Regions from separate parts of the Homo sapiens genome. Here all the other regions are reported to be linked to region 1. Evidence: microRNA targets listed by miRTarBase, many of them from high-throughput screens and not tested one by one. Region 1 holds a microRNA gene; each other region holds the end of a gene's coding sequence.
What was found. Region 1 holds the annotated microRNA hsa-miR-3606-3p (AAAAUUUCUUUCACUACUUAG, at 2,008-2,028, opposite strand). A microRNA usually pairs through its seed, bases 2 to 8, with sites in the 3' UTR of a target mRNA and lowers its output. Matches are read on the target gene's strand: a 7mer-m8 pairs with bases 2 to 8, a 7mer-A1 pairs with bases 2 to 7 and ends in A, and an 8mer does both.

Region 1 (4,048 bases):
TAGAAAAGTATAATGATACACTCTGTTGTAAACATCCTTTTATATTTAGTCTACAGTATCCATTTCAACAGGCCTGTTGCTTAATTATAAAAGTAGTGATGTGAAGAAAAGGGAGGACCTGGACCCAAAGCACACATGTACACTCTAAACTCAATGCTAGCATTTAGCTAGATAACTAGGTCAGCAAGTTTCATCATTGCTTTGGTAAACTGTAACAACATGGTGTCAGAGATTATGTAATTTTTGAAGCATTCTTCCTGCCCCACCTCCACCCTATTTTCATCTCCAATTTTATATGAGTGAACTTACAGTAGGCCCTGGGGGTCCCTGAGGTCCAGTTTCACCATTCTTTCCAGGAGGACCCTAAAAACAAGAACAGTTAGGGAAGTAGAAATAATACAGATTACAGAGAGAAGTCAGAAGGTTGGAGATGAACGCATCTATTAGAAGGCTAGAAATAAATTGAGGAAAGCTACGTACCTGAGGGCCAGGTCCTCCAGGGCCACCTCGTTCTCCATTCTTACCAGGAGCACCCTAAAGAAGAAGTGGTCGGTATTTACTAATCCTCAAAGGGCAATAACTAATCATATTATTGTCTCATATATATATGTCTCATATATATATGTCTCATATATATATGTCTCATATATATATGTCTCATATATATATGTCTCATATATATATATACACACACACACATACATATTTTTGAGACTGAGTCTTGCTCTGTCGCCCAGGCTGGAGTGCAGTGGCGCAATCTTGGCTCACTGTAGCCTCTGCCCCCCGGGTTCTAGTGATTCTCTTGCCTCAGCCTCCTGGGTAGCTAGGATTACAGGCACATGCCACCATGCCTGGCTAATTTTTGTATTTTTAGTGGAGACAGGGTTTCACCATGTTGGCAAGGCTGGCCTAGAACTCCTGACCTCAGGTGATCTGCCTGCCTTGGCCTCCCAGAGTGCTGGGATTACAGGCGTGAGCCAGCGCACCCAGCCTGTTTCATATTTTTTATCTGCCTGCTCCATACACACACATACAACCATAACCAATTATATATTTAGCTCCCTTCCTACATGCAATTTGATTTTCATATACTCCTCCATGCTTTGAAGAGGAGACTGAGTTTTGACCATTTCTTTACTCCATATGGAAAATAAAAGCCTTCCAGTCAAATATTTATTGAAGAAATTAATGAAGGAACTCACATCATTTCCTTTAGGACCGGGGAAGCCCATGACACCAGGCTGACCTCGGGGACCAGATGGCCCAGGAGGACCTGGTCGACCACTTTCTCCTTGACTTCCCTAATAAGAAAAAATTACATTAATAAAGGTTTGATAAAGAGAAGATTAAAGCATGCTATATATATAGTATGTGTGTGTGTGTGTGTGTGTGTATATATATAGATATACATATACATATATATATATACACACACACACACACACACACTCAAGGATAGGCCAACATATACATTCCATTTTAACTGGCCTTTTAAAATGAGATTTTAAAAATGTACATACGGGAGGCCCTGGTTTCCCATCACTTCCTGGTCCTCCTGGACTTCCGGGCATGCCCTGAAGTAAAGAAGTCAGTTGTTAGGTGATTTAAAATGAAATAATAAAAAATTACTACATACACTATTTGTATGATTTTGATATTTTCACTTACATGTGAAGCCTCAGATTTGCACATCTTTTTTCCTGTCTATAAAGTATCTAAGGCAAGTGTTCTATCTTCTCTTCTCCTTGAACTATCTCGGCTTAAGTTTACTTAAAAGAATTTTGTTTTGTTTGGTGCCTTACAAAATATGTAATCTGATTGATTTAAGTTGCTTTTGATCTGTCTTCATTTGTCTTGCCTTTCTTCTGTCTAAATTAAAGTGTCATTCAAACAAATGTTTCTCTGTACCCTCATTCCTGGACCTCCAGGGACGCCATCTCTGCCAGGTTCTCCAGCAGCTCCTCTGGGCCCTGCAGGGCCTGGAGCACCACGCTCTCCAGCAGGACCCTAAGTAGTGAAAGAAATTTTAAAAAAATTAAAATAGCCTTCACTAACCTAGATAGCAACAATATTTTGGTTACAAAGAGAGGACGTCATTTGAACTTTTAAAAAGGGTTCGTGTGTTGCTGAAACATTTATACATAAAATCAGTTATCTTAGCTTGGATTGCCATATTGAAAAAATTTTAAAGCAACTTTGTGAACATCACATGCTTAATAAAACAGTATTCACTGTGCTTAAAAATATAATTATGTGCAGCTAAAATCAAATATCTTAATGCTATGAAATCATATTTGATGTAACCTTAGAGTTTTCAAAGACTTTTCAGGCATTTTAGTTTACTGTACTCTTGCAACGATGCTCAGATAAATGCTTTCCAATTAACAGATAAGTAAAGGATTCTCATAGAGGGTAAGTAAGTGGCTTTAGTTACAAAGCCAGGAAAGTTGTTGAACAGAGGATGCATTATATTAGGAATTTTTCTTAACTCTAATATATATTCTTCAGATATTTAGGTTTTCATGAATGAGAAATTGTATACAAGAACTGCCCATTTGTGGTGCTAGCATTTAGGAACATAGAAACTAAAGTTATCTACCTTTTCTCCTGGGATGCCATTTGGTCCAGCAGGTCCTCGGAACCCAGGGGCACCCTGAAAATAATGAAAGACAAGTATTTCAGTCCAAAGGATTTCAATTCTTTTTCATAATTCTTGAGTGGCAAATATTTTTATGTCATAGAATGCTTTAAACAATATTTTCACTGAACACTCAACTTAAGAAAAATTGGCTGTCTCACCCTGAAGGTAGTTTTATTTAGATGACAGTGATGCTGCTTTTCTTTTAGATGCCCCATGGAAAACGTACCCTTTCTCCTGCAGCTCCTGGAAGCCCATTTGCACCAGGTTCTCCAGGTGATCCATCCTTGCCATCTTCGCCTTTAGCTCCTGGAACACCTGGAATACCAGCCTCACCCTGAAAAAAAAAAAAGATGGTAAAATAAAGAAATTATGACTGAATTTAGTTCAAAGTTTTTACCTGTTTACTTTCTAATTATGTTGCATTTTTTCAAGAAATAACCAGATCTGTTGCAGTAAAACTTACGCGTTCACCACGTGGTCCGGGCTCTCCTTTGGCACCATTCTTACCAGGCTCACCCTAAAGTATAACAAAGTCTTGGTTGAAACACAGGGAGGATTCGACTAACAAATCATCACCAGTAACACATAATTCAGTTATAAGTTATAAGACAAGAGTGAAGTCAATATAAATTCAACTGAACAGGAGCAAAATTTTGCTATTAATTTTTTGTTGATGGAATTAAACTATACCTTTCAGTCAACAGAGAAAAAACAAGGCAACTTACTGCACCACCTCGCAGTCCAGGAGCACCATTAGCACCGGCTGGTCCTGGAGGACCCCGGGCTCCCATCAGTCCAGGAGCTCCAGGAATGCCAGCGGGACCCTAAGAACAAACCAAAGACACTATATTAGCCGAACTTGAATGTTCTTTTATGAATATCTCACTTAAATATCACAAATCTATTGTCATGCAAAATGCAAAAGAAGCCAGTAATGTGTGGATGAGATAAGGCTGAGGAGTGGGGACAGCTTACCATTTCGCCTTTACCACCAGGACTACCATTAATCCCAGGAGGGCCCTAAGTATACAAAAAACAGATAATGTATTAATAGTAATGCAAATAGTTCGTATATATTTGAAGTTGTTTGTGTGAAAATAAATGTATCGATGAGTGTTATGCTTTGTAGAGATTAAGTGAATCCTCCAACTATAACACAACATATGAAATGTGGTCAAAAGAATCATCATTATCTAAATAAATTAGAGATAATATGTACTTCGTATAAATTATTAAATGATACATAAATAGAAGAGATTTTGAATTTGGTTCTTCTCTGAATTTTTATGATTGGTGATTAGCTTGGGGCACATTCTTGAAAGCATCAGAAAACTAGTCTATCCTCTATTCTTTTATATAAACATAAAAAATCATGAATTCTGGAATAGTGCAACAGTCAAAAACTAT
Region 2 (4,098 bases), not on the chromosome of region 1:
TGAACATATTATAATAGTTGCATAAGCTTCTGAATATTAGGACTACAAGCAATATTAACGAGTACATTTATCTTGCCTCAAAAGAACACATTTTTTCAAAAAGAAGAAATGATACTGGGCTTCTAAAAGAACCAAACGTGAGAAATTTGCCTAAACTCTTTCCATCTTGTAGCCTTCTCTCTGCTCATCTGCTTTGGTCTTCTCTGCAATCCACCATTGTTTAGTCCACACCATGAATGGAGCATTTCTTCCCACAGCTCCCATGCACATCTGCTACAGGAGTAACTAGCCACATGTCACTTGGTCCTCTGGCCTAGCCTGGGTCAGGTGTCCATCCCAGACCCAGTCCATGTGGTGAGGCTGCAGGGCCATGTGATGTGGGCATGTATTGGAAGAGAAGAGGTCACTAATGCTAAATGTGGTACAGCGAGGGCAGAGAGACCTTGAAAGGCATTCACTATATTCTCAGAGGCAGAGCCCTTATAACAGACGCTGTTGATGCCCCATCCCATATTCTCTTGGCCTATCACAGTTTGCCAATAGCTGAGGCACAGTTTTCTGCAAGGATGACAACCTTTCCACCTCCAGTGAGTATCTCCCTTCTCCTTTGCCTGTGAGCTTTATCACACCCGTGATAGTTGCTTTTCTGCAGTTACATAGCCCAATCTTAAAGTGCATTAGAATTAACACTCCCAGGCCAACCTTCAACCAATTCAAGCAAAGGAGGATGGGAAGTGGAGATAAAGTCCCAGGCCCTGTAGTCCTTAGGAAGATTCTGAGCTATATCACACATTTCATATGGTTTCTTAGAGAGTCCTAAAAGGGATTCAGCCAAGTTATCCACATGGTAACTGACTCATGAGTGAACCCTTTATCCCATTTGTCATGTAATTGGCTTTTTTTCATTTCTCAATTTGTTTCTGCACTTGTGTTTCCTGGAATCACTTCCCAAATCAGTGTGGTGAGCTGAATAGTGCTCCCCGCACCCACCCTTTGAGCTATATTCACTATGAAAGTTATGAAAAGAATGTATAACACAGTAAAATGAATTTTACACAGAATTAAGGTTATGGACCTTAAAATAGAGAGATTATTCTAAATTGTCTGGGTGATCTCAGTTTAATCATAGGAGTCTTTAAAAGTAAAAGGCAGACTGAGCGTGGTGGCTCATGCCTATAATCCCAGCACTTTGGGAGACCAAGGTGGGCAGATTGCTTGAGCTCAGGAGTTTGAGACCAGCCTGGGCAACATGGCAAGACCCTGTCTCTACAAGAAAATACCCAGGCATGGTGATGTGGCTCTGTGCTCCCAGCTGCTTGAGAAGCTAAGATGGGTGGATTGCTTGAGCCCAGGGGACAATGTGGTGAGCTGAGATCACGCCACTGCACTTCAGCCTGGGTGACAGAGCGAGTCCTTGTCAAAGAAGAAAAAAAAAAAAAAAAGAAAGGAAGGAAAAAAAGGAGAAGGTAAAAGAATCAGAGAGACACAATGGAGAAAAAGACCTAGGAGATGAGCCTCAATGCGCTGTTGCTGCTTTGAAGATACAGGAAGGGAGCTAGGAGCCAGAGTGTGGCAGCCTCTAGAAGTGGGTACAGCCCTTAGCTAAAAACCAGGGAACAACTGGGACGTCAGTCCTATAAATGAAAGGAACTGATTCTGCCAATAGTCTGAATAAGCAAGGAAACAGATTCTTCCTTAGAGACTCCAGAAAGGAATCCAGCCTGCAGACACCTTGATTCTAGCCTGGTGAGATCCCTGTGGGACTTCTGACTTCTCACCTACAGAACAGTGAGATAATAAATTTGTGTTGCTTTAAGTTCATGAATTTCTGAAGCCAGGCGCGGTGGCTCATACCTGTAATCCCAGCACTTTGGGAGGCCGAGGTGGGTGGATCACAAGGTCAGTAGATCGAGACCATCCTGGACAACATGGTGAAACCTCGTCTGCACTGAAAACACAAAAAATTAGCCAGGCGTGGTGGCACGCACCTGTAGTCCCAGCTACTCGGAAGGCTGAGGCAGGAGAATCACTTCAACCTGGGAGGTGGAGGTTGCAGTGAGCTGAGATCGTGCCACTGTACTCCAGCCTGGGAGTACAGTGGCACAATCCAATCTCAAAAAAAAAAAAATGTCTATACATTTCTGGTAATTCAGATGGCAACAACAGAAAATGCATCCAATAAGGGTCTTGTGAAAATGCTGCAGTGAGGTAAACTGAGACTGTGGTGAGTACAGTGGGTGTGCAGACTACTGTGCTGAGTAGACACCACAGTCTAGAAAAAGCCAAGCTGAGGAGTAAGCATTATTAACACATTTATTGAACAACTAGAACTTGACAACCACTTGCCAAGTAGAGGGGATACAGTGGTGAGCAATAATAGTGATGATAATGAGGAGCAGTTTTCCCTAGCAGGCAGCAGTTGAAAGGAATATGGGTTTAACATCCACCAATGACCAGGAGTGGACAGACCTATTTCCAGGAGACTGAGTCCATAGTGGGATTAAAAACATCCCTGTAATTCTTTTAGCTTCCTTGATCCAAATTTCCTATATCACAGAGAATCTCTAGGGTATTTGCTCTGCCTGGAAACCTTGATTGAAGGAAGGCTGGCTCTGGCTGCACAATCACTTATCACATTTGTTGGGTGGGAACATATCTGTGCCCCATGATTTATCAAGTGTGGCCTCTAGTCTCTTTCCAAGTCACATGTCATGTTGGTACTATGAGGTTATTCTCTCAACCAAGACACTCTGCAGAGCTAATCCAAGGAGTGCTGGGTCTAAGTCTCTGATATCAGCTGGGAAAGAGTCAATAGGGATGTCAACTCCACAAGCACTTAAAATGATCTCTACCCTGCAGCTGTCCTGGGAAGGAAACCTCAGGGCTACATGTGGGCTCTTCCTGTGGGAAAAAAAATCAGGCTGGAAAAGAACAGGCAATTAGCCAGGGACTAAGGCTGAACATCTCCCAACTGCACAAATTACTGTATGAGTTATGTAAGTTACTTCATGTTGCCCTGCCTCAGCTTCCATACTTGCAAAATATGACTACCCGACAGGGTGTTGTGAGGATTAAAGGAGTGACATCCACCAAAGCTTATAACACAGCACTAAGAACATTTTAAATTCTCTGTTAATGTTAGTTATTGCTGTTTAGATCCCAGCTCTGCTGTTCACTTGTCATGTCTACTTTGTAAAGTTAATTCACCTTTCTGCACCCCAGTTTCCTTATCTGTATAAGGGGACAATAAGGTGGTACGAAACTCAAAACAACTGTCATATGGAATAATGGAATGAATATCAGTAAAGTGCTTCAGTGCGTGCCTGTAGCTTATGGTTCTGATTGGTTGTTGCAGAAGGGGAGACCTCAGCTCCAGGGTGGGCAGGGAGAAGCAGAGATGTTACTTCAGCCTGAGGCTCCCCACTTTCATTAGCTAAGCCCGGGGTCAGTGGTGTCTCCAGGGAATGATCAGGCACTAGGTCAGGATCGGGGGAACTCTCTACTTCTTTTGGTATTGGGCAAATGGTCAGGGCAGTGGGCTCCAAGGTCAAAATTCTGAAAACAGGATATAGAGGCTCAGAGAAAGAGGCGTGCGGAAAGGTGTAGATATGAGATCCATCTGTGGCATTATAGAACGAGATCTCTCCAGTCTCATAGTCCAGGAAGATCCCCACTTTCCTAGGAGGCTCAGGAAGTTTCAGGTTGGTTCTGGGCTCAGTGAGAGCCCGATACTTATTCCCATCAGTCAGGCCCATAGTCCAGTATCCGTTCTCCGGTGTCATTTTGACCCAACCTTTTTTCCTCTCCACGTTCTTACTACATACCCCAATATGCCACTCTTTTCTGTCCCCCACTTCCACCTCCCAGTAATGTCTCCCTGATGTGAAGTTTTCACAGCCAAGGACACAGTAACGCCATTCAAATCTCTCAGGGTTGTCTGGCAGATCCCGCGGCTCTTCAGCACGCTGCACACTCCTCTGGTCCTCAGAAACAAGGAGGATGGCGTTTGCCGTGTCTGGATCCAGAATCACATCCGCTGCAGAGAGTTTGAGGAGGTGTCCATGGGGTCAGCCATTTTTCCTGGATTTCAGAGCCTCA
Region 3 (4,098 bases), not on the chromosome of region 1:
GGCTGTCATTTGACTTGCAGTTCCCCTATAAATGGTTTTCTCTGGATGCTTTTAAGATTTTTTTCTTTTTCTTTAATTTTCAGTGATTTAGTTATGGTAGGTCTTGGAGTTAATTTCTTTGGGTTTGGGTTTGGGTTTATTTTATTTTAGGTACCCTGAGCTTTTTGAATGTATAGGTTTAAAACTTTTTGGCAAATTAGGAATACTCTCATCTATTATTTCTTCAGATATGTTTTGCATCATCGCTTTTCTCTTCTTTGGTATTCTAATAACATAAATGTTAAAGTTTTTGGTATTGCCCACAAGTCCTTGGGCTCTGTTTATTTTTTAAATGTTTTTTGAAATAAGTTTAATCAATTTCATATGTTGTTCAGCATGGATAATTTTTATTGATCTACCTTCAAGTTTACTGACTTTCCTCTCTCATTTACATTCTGCTATTTAGCCCATCTGACAGGTTTTTATTTTATATTTTGTAGGTAAGTTTTAGTTCTAAAATTTCCATTTGGTTCTTCTGTTTCAGTTTCTCACATGGATATTTCTCTTTCTGAAGAGGCTCTCAATATTTGGTGTGTTTATTTGCCTGCCCTTTGTTGTAAAAAGTCAAGAGCAAAATGAACAAAATAAAAATCTGATTACTTGAGAGAGTTTGTTGCCCTTAGGATTCCAGATAAATGACAGCGTTGTATTTATATTAGAATGGTTGCTTAACTTTCTCATTTTGTACTTGGAAAAAGAGCTAAAGATAGGCTCCAATACCTGCAATGAATTTTGGTTCTGCTAATTACTAGCAGTTAATTCTGACAAATCTCTGTACTTCTCTGGGAAACATTTTCATGAGGGTTGAATTGATCTCTGAGGTGCCTTTTTGCTCTAACATTTTAGGATTCTGTGGTCTATGGGGCATGGAAAGCAGCATCCACATTTGTCCACTGGACATTTTCCATCCTGCCCTGTTGGTCTTAGGACAATGATGGAGACTTTTATGATATTAGGGTGAGCTTAGAACCTTAGAATTCTTAGAGAGCAAGATCATGGGCAGGTGGGTGTTAACATCTCTTCTTTAAACTAAGAATGAAGTCACCAACCTCCTTCTGTTAAACAGGCCAGCAAACTTTAAAGTCTGTGTTGCAGTTTCCCAAGGTCTGCCTGGCCTCTCTGCTCCAGCCTTGGCAGGCTCCATCTGGCCTGCCATGAGATGCTGTGCCTCACCACTGGTGTTTTCTTTCCTTTCACAGCTACTTCAGCTCTCAGCTGCTGCTGTGGACAAAGGATGCAGTGTGGGCGAGGTTCTGCAGTCGGTGCTGCGCTATGAGAAGGAGCGCCAGCTGAATGAGGCGGTGGGGAATGTCACACCGCTGCAGCTGCTGGACTGGCTGATGGTGAACCTGTAATCGGCAACCCCACTGCTTTCCCCTCTTCTGGCAGTGGGGCCGGCCCTTATCCCCGCCCTTCTTTCTCACTTCCACATCTCCCCCTCTATATCCTCACAGAGCCCTAACATTATCTTCACACCACTCTCATCAAAGACATGTCATCTTGTGCTAGCCACTGGATTTTGCAGATTTTCCTGTCCATGCAAGCAAGGACGTAAAATTAAAAAATTACAATTAAAGGGCTCCACATGTTTTGTTTCCTTGGGATCCAATGGGACAATCAGGTAAAGAAATCCCAGGAGTGAAAAAAATAACCAGATGAATGGTAGAGGTACAACAGAGCTGGACTGAGAGGCCCTGCTGAAGGTCACTCAGCCTGTCCCCTGTCTGTGTCACAATTTGCAGCTTCCTTATTTAAACTATTCTCTTAAAATAAGCCACAGTTTATCAAGAATTCATTTTAACCTTTTATAACCATGAAAATCAGAAGATACTTTTGAATTATTCAATCAAAATCATCCTGATTACAATGTTGAAGACCTGGCTTCTTATTCTCTGTAGAGCTGCAGAACAGTGTCCACCTCCAACTTCATCCATGGTTGAAGATCGTTTCAAGAATGTTCCCAAGGATCTGAGTTCTATTGCTGGTTTTGTGGCTTTCTGGCTATAGAAACTGGGATAAGTTACCTGTTCTAACACTGCTCTGACTTAATGTCCATATCACCCCACTTAAGAAATATTTTCTGTTCTTACCCTGGATTTTCTGTGGAATTTTCTATCTTGACTCCTCTTTCTGTCTAGAAACTTCTCCATTGGCTTCTAATTTTCTTTCTGTATCTCTGGGTCTCTTGGAGGACCTCCTCAACTCTGGCAACTCCTTATATATTTGTCTTTCCTGGGACTTTCTCTCAACCCTCTGCTATTCTAACTCAAGATTTTTCCTGGGAGATTACATCCAAATCCATTGCTTCAATGACCTGGTGTCCCCCTTCATAAAATATTATGCAACAATTAAAATGAAAACTGTACTGGGGGGAGGTTATTCCAAATGGCAAGCAAAAAAGAAAACTATTTTTATATACTCTATGTTGTTTCTGATGTTATGATCTTAAGTTTCACGTAAAATTCTATCTGTCCTATGACAACCACATAAAAATTATGTATTTGTGTAGATGAGGATTAGAAAGGGAAGTAAGAAGACATACTTAGATTTGGCGTATGGTAGATGAGTGAACATGTCCTGCTTGTTTACTTAGCTTCCCTTCCTTTGGGAAACCTTCCATCCCTTGCTCTAGTCTAGAGAAGCATCAGTCACAGTGCCTTCACCATCACTGTGGGCTTGGGGCCCAGACTGGCCAAGCATCCCAGTATCCCAGTCACAATTTCTGTGTCACAATCATTTTGGAGACTCCCTGTTAGCAAGGAAGCCTGTATCTTTTTGACTGGATGTTGGCGGTTAACTTCTGAGCAGGGCCTGACATCAGGATGAAGTTAACCATAGTGAGAAGCAAGGCTAATAGATGAAGAGGGAGTCTGAGCCCTACAACCTCATTTGAATTCCTGGATCCTGCTGCGCCTGAAACTACATCTACCTTTTCTGATGCCCCAATTATGTAAGTCAATAAGTGTCTTCCGTTGTTTAAACTGCTTTTGAATTCAGCTTCTATCATTTTCAAACAAAAATCCTGACATAGGTTGGCAGTCATGGGCAAGAAGAAAAAAAATTTCTTTTGTTTGGAGTTCCATTAATGATGCTGTAACACTGAGAGTTCAAAACTACCCGCCCCCTCTACACACACAGATGCATATGGAATGAGTTTAAGTGCAAGGACATCCTCCCCCATCCCTCATAAGAGGAGTCATGCCAATTGGCCATGTTAATAGAGTTTTTTAACATAAAGTTTTATGTATTTAAAAAAAACAGTCTGAAGTATTGTACAATATAAGTGCTGTCTTAATACAAATCACTGGTGGAAAGGAGCAGGACATACCCTCAGCAAAGGTCATACAATAGGGGGTAAAACGTTTGTGTTCTTGAGGGAGAAGTTTTTGCTCTGTCCTGGGGAGGTCATGGACACCTCCGCCCCGACAGCTGCCTCTGACTTCTTGGGAGCGTCTACCAGTTGAGGCAGCTGAACAGTGTCAGCTCCGTGCTGGAGACAGTCCTGCTGATCACCTGAATGCTGAACATGCTTCGTGGGGCTATCTTTTGTTTTCTCTGTAGTCTCTTTGGTGATCTCATCTGCTAAAGGAGAGAGAAGACAGAAGGGAACAAGATTCAAATGTGGATTATATGTTAATTGTCCTTTAGGTTGTACATCACTTAGTGGAAACGATGACCGTGATGATATAAAAACAGTTCATTTGTAAAGCACCTCCAATGTGCCGGGCATTATTCTAAGCACTGTACATTTACTAATTCGTCTGATCATTTCAGCGACCCTGGAGAACAGGCTTTATTCTCATTCTCATAAATGGAGATACTGAGCTACAGAGAGGTTAAGTCCACACCTGATAAGTGGTAGAACCAGAATTTAATCCCCAGGTAACCTGACTCTTGTGACCATGTACCTAACCACTAGGCTATATTGCATATAAAAATTTGCATAATGCCATAATCTGGCACTGACAGAAATTCTAAAGGTAATTATAGGGCATAAAGGGGTGGACGCAGTTAATGAAAAAGGGAGGAGGAGAAAGGAAATTGATTATAGGAGAAAAA
Region 4 (4,098 bases), not on the chromosome of region 1:
GGTATTGTAGATGAAGGGGAGTGAAAGGGTGCTGTAGACCAGACAGGGGAGGTGGTGAGAAGGTACAAAAACAACGCTCTTTCAGAAAGCCAGTATTCTTATAAAAGTATTGGTCTTTTATTTAATATACTAGTAATTATAAAACGTTTATAATCACAACATGAAGAAAAAAAGTTCATAGACCGTAACTTGTATAATTTCAGCTTGTACATAATTGACTAAGTAAACTTACCTTGTCATGTGTTTGAAGCTGTGGCTTGCCAGGATCAGTTTATTAGGACATTTGTTTTTTATTTTATCTAACAAATTACCCTCTAGTGTGCTCCTCTTTAGTTTTTTTCTGAGAAATTTCCCATTTATGTCTTTTTAAATTTAACCAGAGCAAACTGGACTTTAATCACAAAACTTCCAAGAGGTCAAAACCATGTGAAAAGTTGATTGCTTTGGCCTTTTCATGAGTTAGCATACCAGCTGTAGGTTTCCATGTCACATTCCTACCAAGTCTCTGATCTGTTGTATGATTTTCCCTTTGTCTTCATATTCCTCCAAAAGCTAGGTAATGAGGAACAGCAAGAAAAACTGCTCAGGGAGTGGCTGGACTGCTGTGTGACGGAGGGGGGAGTTCTGGTTGCCATGCAGAAGAGTTCTCGGCGGCGAAATCACCCCCTGGTCACTCAGATGGTAGAAAAATGGCTTGACCGCTACCGACAGATCCGGCCGTGTACATCCCTGTCTGATGGAGAGGAAGATGAGGATGATGAAGATGAATGAAAAAAAAAATCAAACAGCAGAAGACCAAGGCATCAGATCTGTAATGACCCTAAAGTTAGTGTGGTGCTCCAAGCAGAGTCGACATCATGGAATGAACCAAATCTGGCAGGATCTGCTCGGGGAAGTGTTTTCCTGGACCACACACACCTTATGGAGATAATGCCTCTGCTGCGTGAGGAGACAGAGAACTTTAGTTGGACTACAGTTTGTAAAAAAAACTAATTTTATTAAGACAGAACTTTTTTTCCTTCCAAATTGTAAATCTGTCTATAAATGTAACGCATGTGGTTGTGTAAGACATTGTTTAATAGGAAAAGTTGTACCAGCATCTTCATATTATTGAGAAAATTTTTTCCAGCATGGGCACTTAGAAAAAGCACATGGCAAATGGCTCTTTGTTCCTTTCAGATATTATTTCAGTAGAACCTGGCATTCTACTTTCACCTTAAAAGATCCATCTAAGTCTCAGATCTGGAAACGTTTTGTACCGATTATCCACAGCAAAACAAAAATAAGCTTTTATTTTATTAATAATTTCGTTCCTCTTGTGCCCAATCAAATCTTTTAGGAACAAACTGCAAGAAAAGCTAAGAATGTTTTAGAGTGAACTAAATACAGACATTGCTTACTTGTTTTGAAGAGGGTTTTGGTTTTGGTTATTGTGTCTTTAAGTTTTCTGATATGCCCCCTTTCAATATTTAGATATTTATTTGTTGGGAAGAATACCTTAAAATGAGGGTTCTTATTCCAGATTCTGGGCAGTGGTCTGTGAGTAGTTTTTTTCCTGGATGAAAAGGGAGCAAGCCCACTTGTCACTAAATGAATTGTGTGAAATGTGCTCACTTGGACTCCATCAACAATGTGCTGCTCCCAGATTGCCATGCCAGAGGGTCTTCGGATTCTTCCTTCTATCACCTCTGCTCTAAGCAAATCTTGTTAGAAGGGCATGCCTTTGCTTAGGCAGATTGGGAATACCAATTCACTACAGAATAAAGATTTTAAAAATGCAATAAGGTGGCAAATGCATTGTATGAAGAATTTCTCAGTGTTTAGTCTGAGAATTTTTGCATGTTGGTTAATTGTGGCCATTCTTTAATTTAAAGTTAAAACTATAATCTTAGGTAGAAAAACTTTTTTATAAGAAGTATTATTTGACCACTTCAGGTATACATTCAATACTGGGTAAAAATTTCAGACCTATCTCAGGAACACAGAAATATTTGGTGTCCTGATAAGCACTTTCTAGACTATTGATGTGGCCAGGAATTTGGAAAGACGACACACGCACGCGCGCGCGCGCACACACACACACACACACACACACACACACAGTTTTTTCCTTCCCTGTGATGAAAAAGGCTGTGAAAACCTTAAAGTATTTGCTTGCTTCTTGTTTTGTTTAGTTGATAATGAAATGTGTACAACCTCAAATTTGCTGCCAGAATACTAAAAATAGAAAAATACCCACAAAACTGTCATGTCTTTAGTTCTTTCCCCCCGAAAACTCAGTAAAAAGGTGTTCCCAGGATGAAAAGATCATTTTTTGCTGCATGCTAAATCTTGCAGGAAAAATGATTTTTTAGTACGATTCTGTAGAAATGAATCTTTGATATAATGTAAATGCTGCTGTTTGTTTCAAGTGGTGAATGTGTTGTTAAAAATTGGCTGTTTGCTTTCATTTTGGCCAATAAGTAATCAAGTTTGTAGAAAATGTTAGCATTCTGACTACTTAGCATCTGTAGTAATTTCTCTATGTATAGGGATAATTTTTTAGTGGGCAGAGATCCTGTTCTAGTTGCCTGTTAAGCAAAATCTGCCCTCCCAATTGAAAAAGCCAAAGAGAATTGTTAGAGGGAAAAGCATGTAGCCATTGCAGTCTGCATTGCAGCCAGCGTTGTCCAGAGTACACGCTCAGCACTTAGCTTCTACTGTGTGTTGTGGTCTGGTGAGTGTTGTTTCCCCTGAGCGCTCTATTATTTATTTATTTATTATCAATCAGTGACCCTGACCACATAGTGTGATAGGTGCAGCATTCTTCCCTGTGGGAAAGAATTAAAGATGGTTCCATTTCCTAGGCTACAGACAGGAATGGGGCTCTAAATGGTTTTCATAGACTGGCTGTTAAAGGCCAAAAATTTTGGTAAATCAATGCTATATTATGCTCTTGAACTATTAAAACAGCCATAATTATTGTCCCAAGATAGAATATAGTCCTTTTTCAAAGATGATTATACGTGGCTAGGTGACAGACATTAATGACTGACTCTGGAGAGTAAGTCATACCTGCACTCTGTGGACTTGATGGTTCTTTTTCTAGAGCAAACAGAGCGTGGCATTTTGTTTTGACTTGTTCTTCCTTGGGGTCAAATTTATATATATATATATAAATTTTTGTTTGGGCGACCAAGATCTAATAATTAAAACCCAGGTGGACCATGGATTCAGACCTGCCTTTTTATGTTTTTGACTCTTAGGTTCATCGTGTCCCAGACTTCTTCACATATTCGTGAAGGTAAGATATTCTGTGTGCGCTTGGCCTCCTTTTCACGCATATTTCATTGCCTCTTTGATGAGTGGTTACGAAGACGTTAAACTACCTTTTTGTTCCCTGGGGTAATAGGTCAGTAACTATGAGCGCCGTCTCTCTCCATGTGAGCTTGTGTTAATAGACACTTTTATGGTAGAGTTGGGATGGGGCCACCACCTTAAAATGAGTGAGCAGACAAGGCCAGGCAAGCCAAAGGCTTTAAGACACCATGATTTTCTTGTTTTGTTTTAATTGGGAAGGGAAGTATAAGGAAGAGCTCAGAGGGAGTTTCATACCTGGAATTGTTGGACTTAATTGACACTTGCAAATACTTTTAGTATAAAGGTTTAATTCTATTTAAAAAGAAGATCCATTAAATCAAGCTCTTAACTCATGGGACTATTTGCAACACTTCTTTGTAAATATCATTTTGTTTGTTAGGTTATTGGCAAAACAGTTTCAAGGTTCACTTCCCTCCCTTGAACCAGGTCCAGGTCATTTTGCTTTGGGGTAGATTAAAGTCAGAACTCTAAAAGTTGAGCAACTTTGTTTTTTTTTGAATTGATTTAGCACTAACCCACCATTGCATCTTAAGGATGGCATGACGTGATAATGATGGACTTGTGTGAGGTTTTGATTTTTCAATTAAACTTTTTGTTATCACAGGTAATTAATTGTCAGCGGTCTTGAGTCTGGTTATGGAACCCTGTAGTAACAAGAGCTGGAAATTGGCTAATTGACAATGCAATTGCCTTAAACATCTCAAGTAGAGAACATTTACATTAGTGAGATGTACTTGA
Region 5 (4,098 bases), not on the chromosome of region 1:
AAATGACAAGACTGACAAGCAGATGTTGTATAATTTCACAGGTGGAATCTTGTGCATTTAAAACTGATGCTTCATAAGCCTTGCTGTTTACAGACTCTTGGAATTCATTGACTCTGTAATGATGAACTCTGGGAAAGAATGAAAGAGCTTTCTCATCAGTTCGTGCATTGCAAAGTAGTTGCTGCATTTCCCTAATTGGGATGAGAAATTGCCTGTGGTACTCTGAAATCAAGGGTTATAATCAATTACAGAATTGCTCACTTTCCTTTAGTGATGGAGTCTTCCCTCCTTGTGATTATTCATATCAAAATGAGTTCCTTTCCCAAACCAATAACAATCTGAGTGGATGCATTTGATTACTGTTTTTCTAACATTCTGATTTTTCTATTCCTTTACAGAGCGAATGGTCACAGTTGGTCGCTGGGCAAAGGGAATGAGTGCAGACTATGAAGAAATTTTGGATGTACCTAAACCGCAAAAACCCAAAACAAAAATACCTAAAGTTGTTAATTTTTGATAACAGCTAGCACTATCATGAGTTACTACCTCATTGTTACTTTCTAAACCAGGCCCGCTTCACGAGTTAGAGTTGAGCTCCCCTGTAGCCAGGACTATGCTGTAGATATCAGTATGATCTGGGTGTGGCCAAAAACAATTTTCTTTATTCTGTCTATCAAATAGTACTTCTACCACTGTTTGGAGAAAATTGAAGAAAAGAATAAGATGATTAAATGAATTCTCTAAAAGAACATATTTTAAGAGACAGAACTTAGACATAACCAAGTAGTTGTATACCTGATTGTAACAATCATCTTTTATAAAAGCAAAATTATGCATAAATGTAAAACACCCCTAAACAAAGGGAACAAATGAATTTTTGGTTATATTGTTTTCTTGGCTCAAAGTATCAATTTATTATTATAATAGAAATTTATAAGTTGCTAGAAAGTCTATATTTTTAAAGTACGGAATAAAAATATGTTTTCTATTAAGCAATAGAAATATTTTTGTGTATAATTTTTCTGAATACTTGATTCTCGATTGAAATATCCATTGTTCGTTAATATCCATGTAACAATCCCATTGGAAACAAGATTTTTTTTGAATCCTAGATGAGAATAAACAGGGATTTGGTTTTTGTTTTAGTTTTGACATAAAGGATTCCAAGTTACTGAAGTTAAAATTGAAATATCTCAGTTTAACAGCAGCTCTTTTTTGCCCTTGATTTTCAAGAGAGAACTTCTAGCCAAAATTCAGTTTTTGTTACTTAACCAGAATGATGGCAGATAACAGATGGTATAATAAACTTAATAGCATTTTGTTCTCATGTTTTAGATGAGTCAGAGTAAGATGGAAGTATCACCATAATAGAGTTAGAACACTAATCAGAGACCCATTAGCTTCTTTGTTTGATTTGATGAATTCATGCATACTTAATACATATATTTCACAAGGCTTAACACTACCATTGTACTGTATAATGGAATGACTCTAGTGGTTTTGTGTTTCATTTGAAATTTTACCTGATTGAATCCATTTGTAACTAAAGGAAACAGCTGTGATTAGTTACTGATGCCTCAAAAGCAAAATATTTACCAAATAAGAAAAGAAACACTTTTCTCTGTTTTCATCTCTGCACAACTCGACAGTTCTAGTCTTAATAGGAGCTGTTCTTTTATTTCAGTGTGAGAGGAAAACATGACAAAATACTGCTCAGCATCCCAGAGCTTAAGGAAATGAGTGCTATTTAGAAGGAATTGCACAAGCCAGGCAGTTGGAAAAGGACAGTAATGCTGCCTTAGTCATCTAGTCCGAACGCACCCAGATTTATTTCACCTGTCCCATCAGGAGCAGAGTCTACAGCCTGTCAGCTGAAAGTTAGGTCTAATGCTTTTTGTAGTCTTCAGTGCAAGAATGTTGGTATCCACTTTGTCTTTTTTGGATTACTTTTTGTGTGTGTGTGTGTGTATAATTTTTTTTTTGATAGCTCACTCTGTCACCCAGGCTAGAGTGCAGTGGCACAATCTTGGCTTACTGCAACCTTTGCCTCTTGGCTTCAAGCGATTCTCCTGCCTCAGCCTCCTGAGTAGCTGGGATTATAGGCACGCACCACCACACCCCGCTAATTTTTGCATTTTTACTAGAGATGGGGTTTCACCATGTTGGCCAGGCTGGTCTCGAAATCTTGACCTCGTGATCTGCTCGCCTCGGCCTCCCAAAGTGCTGGGATTACAGGCTTGAGCCACCATGCCCGGCCTACTTTGTTTATATTTTAATGATCTATAAATATTAGGCAGTGAAGTCATTAGAAATAAACTGCAGGTACTGAATGTAACATTAAACACGTGTAGAGACACTAAAAGGAATGCACCAGAGGCAGAAATCCTGAGAGATCCTGAGTGTTCATTAAAAGGAACTATAGACGTTGGTTATTTTCTTAGCTAAAAATGCCTAAAGAGGAAGGCAAACAATTTATTCATTCATCTTATATATTTCCCAAGCACTACTATGTTCCTGTTACTCTTATGCACTTGAAATTGTGGCAGTCAGCAAGACAGACAAGACCACATGCATTATAATGGGGCTGAATAATGGACAGGAGACTTAGGGAAAATACCAGCAAGAAATGTTTTATTACATTCCTAAAATATTTTTTGAATCCCCTGAGACTTTAAAAAATTTTTAAGATGGGGTCTTACCCTGTCACCCAGGCTGGAGTGCAGTGATGCAATCGTAGCTCACTGAAGCCTCAAACACCTGGGCTCCAGCGATCCTCCCGCCTCAGCCTCCTGAGTTGCTGGGATTACAATAGGCATGAGCCACTACACCCAGCTGAATCCCCTAAGACTTAGTCTTTAGTGCTCCTTCGGTCTTTTGTAAATTTCATCTCTTCTTACAAACTTATCTTTCACTTTTCCATAAATGATTCCTAAATCTCCAGCTAGCCCTAAAATCCCAGGTTTCAGTCCCGTCTTTTCACCTGCCTCCTGAATGTTCCTACTGGGATGCTCCACTAATACTTCAAATTCAATATGGCTTTAAACAGACTCACTTTCCCCTGGGGAAAAAGTGAGTTTACCTTTTTGTCTCTTTTTTCACTACAATTATGTTCCAAGCCATGAGGCCTGAATCTCAAGTTGCTCTTTACTTGACATTCCCTCCAGTCCCCATGGCCAGCCCCCCATCCCTGCTTATTTCCTTCAGGCATCTGCTATGACCAGCTTGAGTCTTTCTATGACCATCCTTATAGGAAAGAGCAGCTCCTTGCTTCCTCATCCCAATACCTAACACTATAGCTCTATTTGTTCCCTCTCTACCAGATTATAGGTTACACGAGGGCAGGAATTTTGATTCTTGTTCATTGCTATATCCCTAGAAATGCTTGGAATGTATGAAGCATTTGCATTTGTTGAATGAGTTAATTCAATGAGTGATATAAAAGGAATCAACAGAGAGATGATGCAAGTGACTGGGTAGCTCTTAGATTGGATAATCAAGAGGAGGCCTCTGTGGAAATTTTAAAGCTGAAATCTGAATGACACAAAGGAACCAGTCTTGAGTTAGCCAAAACCCCTAAAGAGAGAATGAGTTTGCCATATGTGAGGGACAGAAAGGAGTGTAGCTGAAGCCTAGAGAAGGGCCACATCAGGGCTATTCTGACCACCCTATTTAAAACAGAATCTACATCTCCATCCTAACACTGGCACTCCTGGTTCCCCTTACTTTGCTTTATGTTTTTCTGTGTCATTTATCACCTTCTACCATATTAAGTTATTTATTATATGTGTCGTTTTTGTCCCATCTCTCTGCTAGAATATAATCTCCACGGGGGGTGGATTCTTGTCTGTTCACTGATATACCCCAAATGCCTAAAACAGTACTTAGCACATAGTAGGCCCATAATATGTATTTATCATTTGACGAAGTCAGAGAGGTGGTGGGGGCAGTATCACACTGGAAAATTTAGGAAGCCATGGGAAAGTTTTGGTTTTATTCCCCTAACAGCTTTATTGAGATATAATTCACATACGATAAAATTCACACTTTTAAAGTGTACAACTAACTGGCTTTTAATCTAGTCAGAGTTGTACAACCATC
Region 6 (4,098 bases), not on the chromosome of region 1:
GATCGTTCAAAAATGTCCCCAGATGTGGGCATCTGGGCGATTTATTGGAGTGCTGCTGGCTATTGGCCCTTGATAGGCTTCCCTGGAACTCCCACCCAGCAAGAGCCAGCTCTCCACCGAGTGGGGGTTTACCTGGATCGTGGGACTGGGAATGTCTCCTTCTACAGCGCTGTGGACGGAGTGCACCTGCACACCTTTTCTTGTTCTTCTGTCTCACGCCTCCGGCCATTTTTTTGGTTGAGTCCATTAGCATCTTTAGTCATTCCACCAGTGACTGATAGGAAATGAGGCTTTTCTTCCCCTGACCAAAACTCCTTCCCTGTAGTCCAGCTGAGGGACACACATCCCTGGGCCCTCTTCTGCCCTTCATGTCTCTATCCTGGATGGTCCATCTTCTGGGTCTCCCTAACGGTACCGTTTGGTATCTGCCCTTTGTGTGCTTCACAAGAGGCAGTCCCATGGGAGGTGGGTCTGGCCAATGGAGATGGGACAGGAAATTTTCCAAGACGCTTTTGGGAAATCTTTTTGTAGCTTTTAAAGAGATGTGCGGGGAAGACATATGGATGTTAGCAGCCATATTGGAACTGAGAACACAGGAATGGTGGAAAGGTAGAAGAAACAGAGTTTTTGTTGCCGTTGTGAAATTGTTGAAATTTCCTTCATGCCAAGCTTCTTGTTATATGAGATAATTACGCCCTTATTGTATAAGACAATTTTAGTTGTATTTGGTTACTTGCAGCCTGAAGTACCGTAACTGCACTAAAGGGACGTAGTGTGAACATCCCGCAGTATAGGCTTAAGTCACTTTTGTGAAATTTGACAAAGGCATAGAATCTTTTTCTATCCAGTCAGGCATTGCCTATTCTTTCCAGTAACTACTGATTCCCCCACTTTTCTGTCTTAGAAAATTGTGGGAATCCCCCCTCACTCTGCCTATGTTGCACTCTCTCTCTTCCCAACCATAACTCTGCCCTCAGCTATTAACTGTGCTGTGTATTTATCAAGTTGGTATGTTGTATGTACAGTGTTATTCATGTCATCATGAGAATGTTGAACGCTTGTTAAATATCTTTTGCTAGCCTCTTCATATGCTGTTGCATATGACTCTCATCACAACTCAGTGAGATGGAAAGTCAAATCCTATTTGTACAAATGAGAAAACTGAACTCTTTAGAGTAACTAGCTCAGTATTGGCCAGCTGGTAAATGGCAGTGTTGGGATTAAAATCCAGTTCTTATCTACTCTCCCTTTATTCAGAAGCATTTATTGGATGTTGATCTTTGTTTCAGGTTTTGATTTTGTTACTTTTTTATACTGTGTATATTTTCCTCAGTCTACCCTTCTGCTCTAGATTGTCTGGACTCAGGAGATTGTGGCAGTTACTGGATAGTTATTTTTAAGATAATGATTGCTTTTCTCTGTTTATATAAGTCATGTGTACTTATTGTAGAAAGTTTGTAAGATGCAAAAAGTATAAAAATTAAAGTTATGCACTACTAACATTTCAATATATTTTCTCCCAGATTTTCAGTAAAGACTTTCAGGCAGTGATTTAACGAGGATTTTATTTTAACTTATATTTTAGTTTAAGGGGAACACGTGCAGGTTTGTTCTATAGATCAATTACATGTCACAGGGGTTTGGTGTACATATTATTTCATTACCCAGGTAATAAGCATAGTACCCAATAGATACTTTTTTGATACCCCACCCTCCTCCACCCTCTACCCTCAAGTAGTCCCTGGTGTCTGTTGTTCCCTTTTTTGTGTCCATGGGTACTCAATGTTTAGCTCTCCCTTATACGTGAGAACATGTGATGTTTGGTTTTCTGTTCATGTGTTGGTTTGCTTAGGGTAATGGCCTCCAGCTCCATCCATGTTGCTGCAAAGACATGATCTCATTCTTTTTTTATGGCTGCATAGTATTCCATGGTGTATATGTACTATGTTTTCTTTATCCAGTCTACTGTTGATGGGCATTTAGGTTGATTCCATGTCTTTGCTATTGTGAATAGTGCTGCAATGAATATATACATGCATATGTCTCTATGGTTGAATGATGTCTTTGGGTATTGGGCATATACCGAATAATGGGATTGCTGGGTTGAATGGTGGTAGTGAGGATTCTTACACAACTTACAGCATCTTCCCTAACTCCTCCTCCCCTCCTCCCCTTCTTATACATCAGCCATCTTGGCTTGTCTTCCTATTCAGCCTGAGCAGCCCCCTCATTCAACAGTTTCTACTGAGTTCTCAACTTCCCAGGATATTTGCTGTTATAGGTTGAATTATGTTCCCCAAAAACATATGTTGAAGAGCTACCTGTGAAAATGACCTTATTTGGAAATAGGATATTTGCAGATGTAAACAAGATAAGGTCATTTGGGTGGGCTCTAACCCAATATGACTGGTGTCCTTATAAAAAGAAGGAAACTTATGCATATGTTCACACACTCATGCCCACACACACACAGAAAAATGCCAGATGGAAACAACGTGAAAGAGGCTCTGGAAGATGGAGGCAGAGATTGGATTGGAGTTATGCTGTCACAAGCCAAGGAACCTGGGGCTACCAGAAGCTGGGGGAAGCCAGGAAGAATCTTCCCCTAGAAGCTTTGAAGGGAGCATGGCCCCATCAACACTTTGGTTTCTGATTTCTAACTGCCAAAACTGAGGTTAGACAGTAAATTTCCATTGTTTTAAGCCACCCAGTTTGTTATGGCCACCTTAGGAAATGATGACTACACTTGCCCTTCAGGACGTCCTTCAGTGCCTGTCTTACTAATAGCTAATCCTTTGGAAACTCATCAGTACCTTCCCTCCTCTCTTCCTTCTGGCTATTGAAAGGTTGATTGATTCTGCTATAAATCCTTGCTCTCTGCCTTCAAGTGGGCCCTTTGAGCTGCATGGTAAACTTTTTTTATCACTTGACTTGTTTTAACGTCTTTGGTGGCAATGATTCCAAACTTTTCCTTTTAAGCCTTCATGAGTCCCCCTTCATACGATTGCAAAGAACTTGCATCTTCAACAGAGAAAAAATTCTTTTCCCCTACCCTTCTTATTCTTCACAATTCTTTGTCTCTGTGCTTGAGTCTTGATATTGACCCCTCTGGTCTCATCAGGTATGGGATGGGACCTAGGTGTTCATTTTTGTTTAAAAAGCCAACCAAGTCCCTCTCCCTCTCCCTGTCCCTCTCCCTCTCCCTCTCCCCACGGTCTCCCTCTCCCCACGTTCTCCCTCTCCCTCTCTTTCCACGGTCTCCCTCTGATGCCGAGCCGAAGCTGGACTGTACTGCTGCCATCTCGGCTCACTGCAACCTCCCTGCCTGATTCTCCTGCCTCAGCCTGCCGAGTGCCTGCGATTGCAGGCGCGCGCCGCCACGCCTGATTGGTTTTCGTATTTTTTTGGTGGAGACGGGGTTTCGCTGTGTTGGCCGGGCTGGTCTCCAGCTCCTAACCGCGAGTGATCTGCCAGCCTTGGCCTCCGGAGGTGCCAGGATTGCAGACGGGTCTGGTTCACTCAGTGCTCAATGGTGCCCAGGCTGGAGTGCAGTGGCGTGATCTCGGCTCGCTACAACCTCCACCTCCCAGCTGCCTGCCTTGGCCTCCCAAAGTGCCCAGAGTGCAGCCTCTGCCCGGCCGCCACCCTGTCTAGGAAGTGAGGAGCGTCTCTGCCTGGCCGCCCATCGTCTGGGATGTGAGGAGCCCCTCTGCCTGGCTGCCCAGTCTGGAAAGTGAGGAGCGCCTCTTCCCGGCCACCATCCCATCTAGGAAGCGAGGAGCGTCTCTGTCCAGCCGCCCATCGTCTGAGATGTGGGGAGCGCCTTTGCCCCGCCACCCCGTCTGGGATGTGAGGAGCGCCTCTGCCCAGCCACGACCCCGTCTGGGAGGTGAGGAGCGTCTCTGCCCGGCCGCCCCATCTGAGAAGGGAGGAGACCCTCCGCCCAGCAGCCGCCCCGTCTGAGAAGTGAGGAGCCCCTCCGCCCGGCAGCCACCCCGTCTGGGAAGTGAGGAGCTTCTCCGCCCGGCAGCCGACCCGTCCGGGAGGGAGGTGGGGGGGTCAGCCCCCCGCCCAGCCAGCCGCCCCGTCCGGGAGGGA

Region 2: the mRNA of BTN3A3 is a reported target of hsa-miR-3606-3p. Seed matches in the 3' UTR shown: 7mer-m8 at 2,540-2,546.
Region 3: the mRNA of DYRK4 is a reported target of hsa-miR-3606-3p. The part of its 3' UTR that is shown has no 7-base or 8-base seed match.
Region 4: miRTarBase lists ZRANB1 as a target of hsa-miR-3606-3p. Seed matches in the 3' UTR shown: 7mer-A1 at 3,137-3,143.
Region 5: the mRNA of ZCCHC9 is a reported target of hsa-miR-3606-3p. Seed matches in the 3' UTR shown: 8mer at 927-934.
Region 6: the mRNA of TRIM4 is a reported target of hsa-miR-3606-3p. Seed matches in the 3' UTR shown: 7mer-m8 at 494-500, 7mer-m8 at 650-656 and 7mer-m8 at 812-818.

What each region holds. Positions count from the first base shown.
Region 1 is chr2:188,993,651-188,997,698 of GRCh38, reverse strand. It overlaps MIR3606 (microRNA 3606), which reads right to left and starts at 2,069; the gene lies at 2,007-2,069. It overlaps COL3A1 (collagen type III alpha 1 chain), which reads right to left. Exons shown (of 51, transcript NM_000090.4): 17 at 3,617-3,661; 18 at 3,367-3,465; 19 at 3,105-3,158; 20 at 2,868-2,975; 21 at 2,600-2,653; 22 at 1,909-2,007; 23 at 1,521-1,574; 24 at 1,203-1,301; 25 at 481-534; 26 at 310-363.
Region 2 is chr6:26,451,613-26,455,710 of GRCh38, reverse strand. BTN3A3 (butyrophilin subfamily 3 member A3) reads right to left here. Exons shown (of 11, transcript NM_006994.5): 11 at 2,296-4,036. The coding sequence ends at 3,300. Among named protein-coding and RNA genes, the nearest start is that of BTN2A1, 4.3 kb to the left of the region's middle.
Region 3 is chr12:4,613,035-4,617,132 of GRCh38, reverse strand. DYRK4 (dual specificity tyrosine phosphorylation regulated kinase 4) reads right to left here. Exons shown (of 15, transcript NM_001394779.1): 15 at 3,258-3,618. The coding sequence ends at 3,380. AKAP3 (A-kinase anchoring protein 3) reads left to right here. Exons shown (of 6, transcript NM_001278309.2): 6 at 1,239-1,615. The coding sequence ends at 1,394. Among named protein-coding and RNA genes, the nearest start is that of AKAP3, 34 kb to the left of the region's middle.
Region 4 is chr10:124,984,222-124,988,319 of GRCh38, forward strand. ZRANB1 (zinc finger RANBP2-type containing 1) reads left to right here. Exons shown (of 9, transcript NM_017580.3): 9 at 553-3,968. The coding sequence ends at 771. It overlaps CTBP2 (C-terminal binding protein 2), which reads right to left. Exons shown (of 11, transcript NM_001329.4): 11 at 96-4,098. Among named protein-coding and RNA genes, the nearest start is that of ZRANB1, 44 kb to the left of the region's middle.
Region 5 is chr5:81,312,146-81,316,243 of GRCh38, forward strand. It overlaps ZCCHC9 (zinc finger CCHC-type containing 9), which reads left to right. Exons shown (of 6, transcript NM_001131035.2): 6 at 399-1,152. The coding sequence ends at 517. It also overlaps a transcript of ACOT12 not described here. Among named protein-coding and RNA genes, the nearest start is that of ZCCHC9, 13 kb to the left of the region's middle.
Region 6 is chr7:99,888,353-99,892,450 of GRCh38, reverse strand. TRIM4 (tripartite motif containing 4) reads left to right here. Exons shown (of 6, transcript NM_033091.3): 6 at 1-2,048. The coding sequence ends at 288. Among named protein-coding and RNA genes, the nearest start is that of OR2AE1, 13 kb to the right of the region's middle.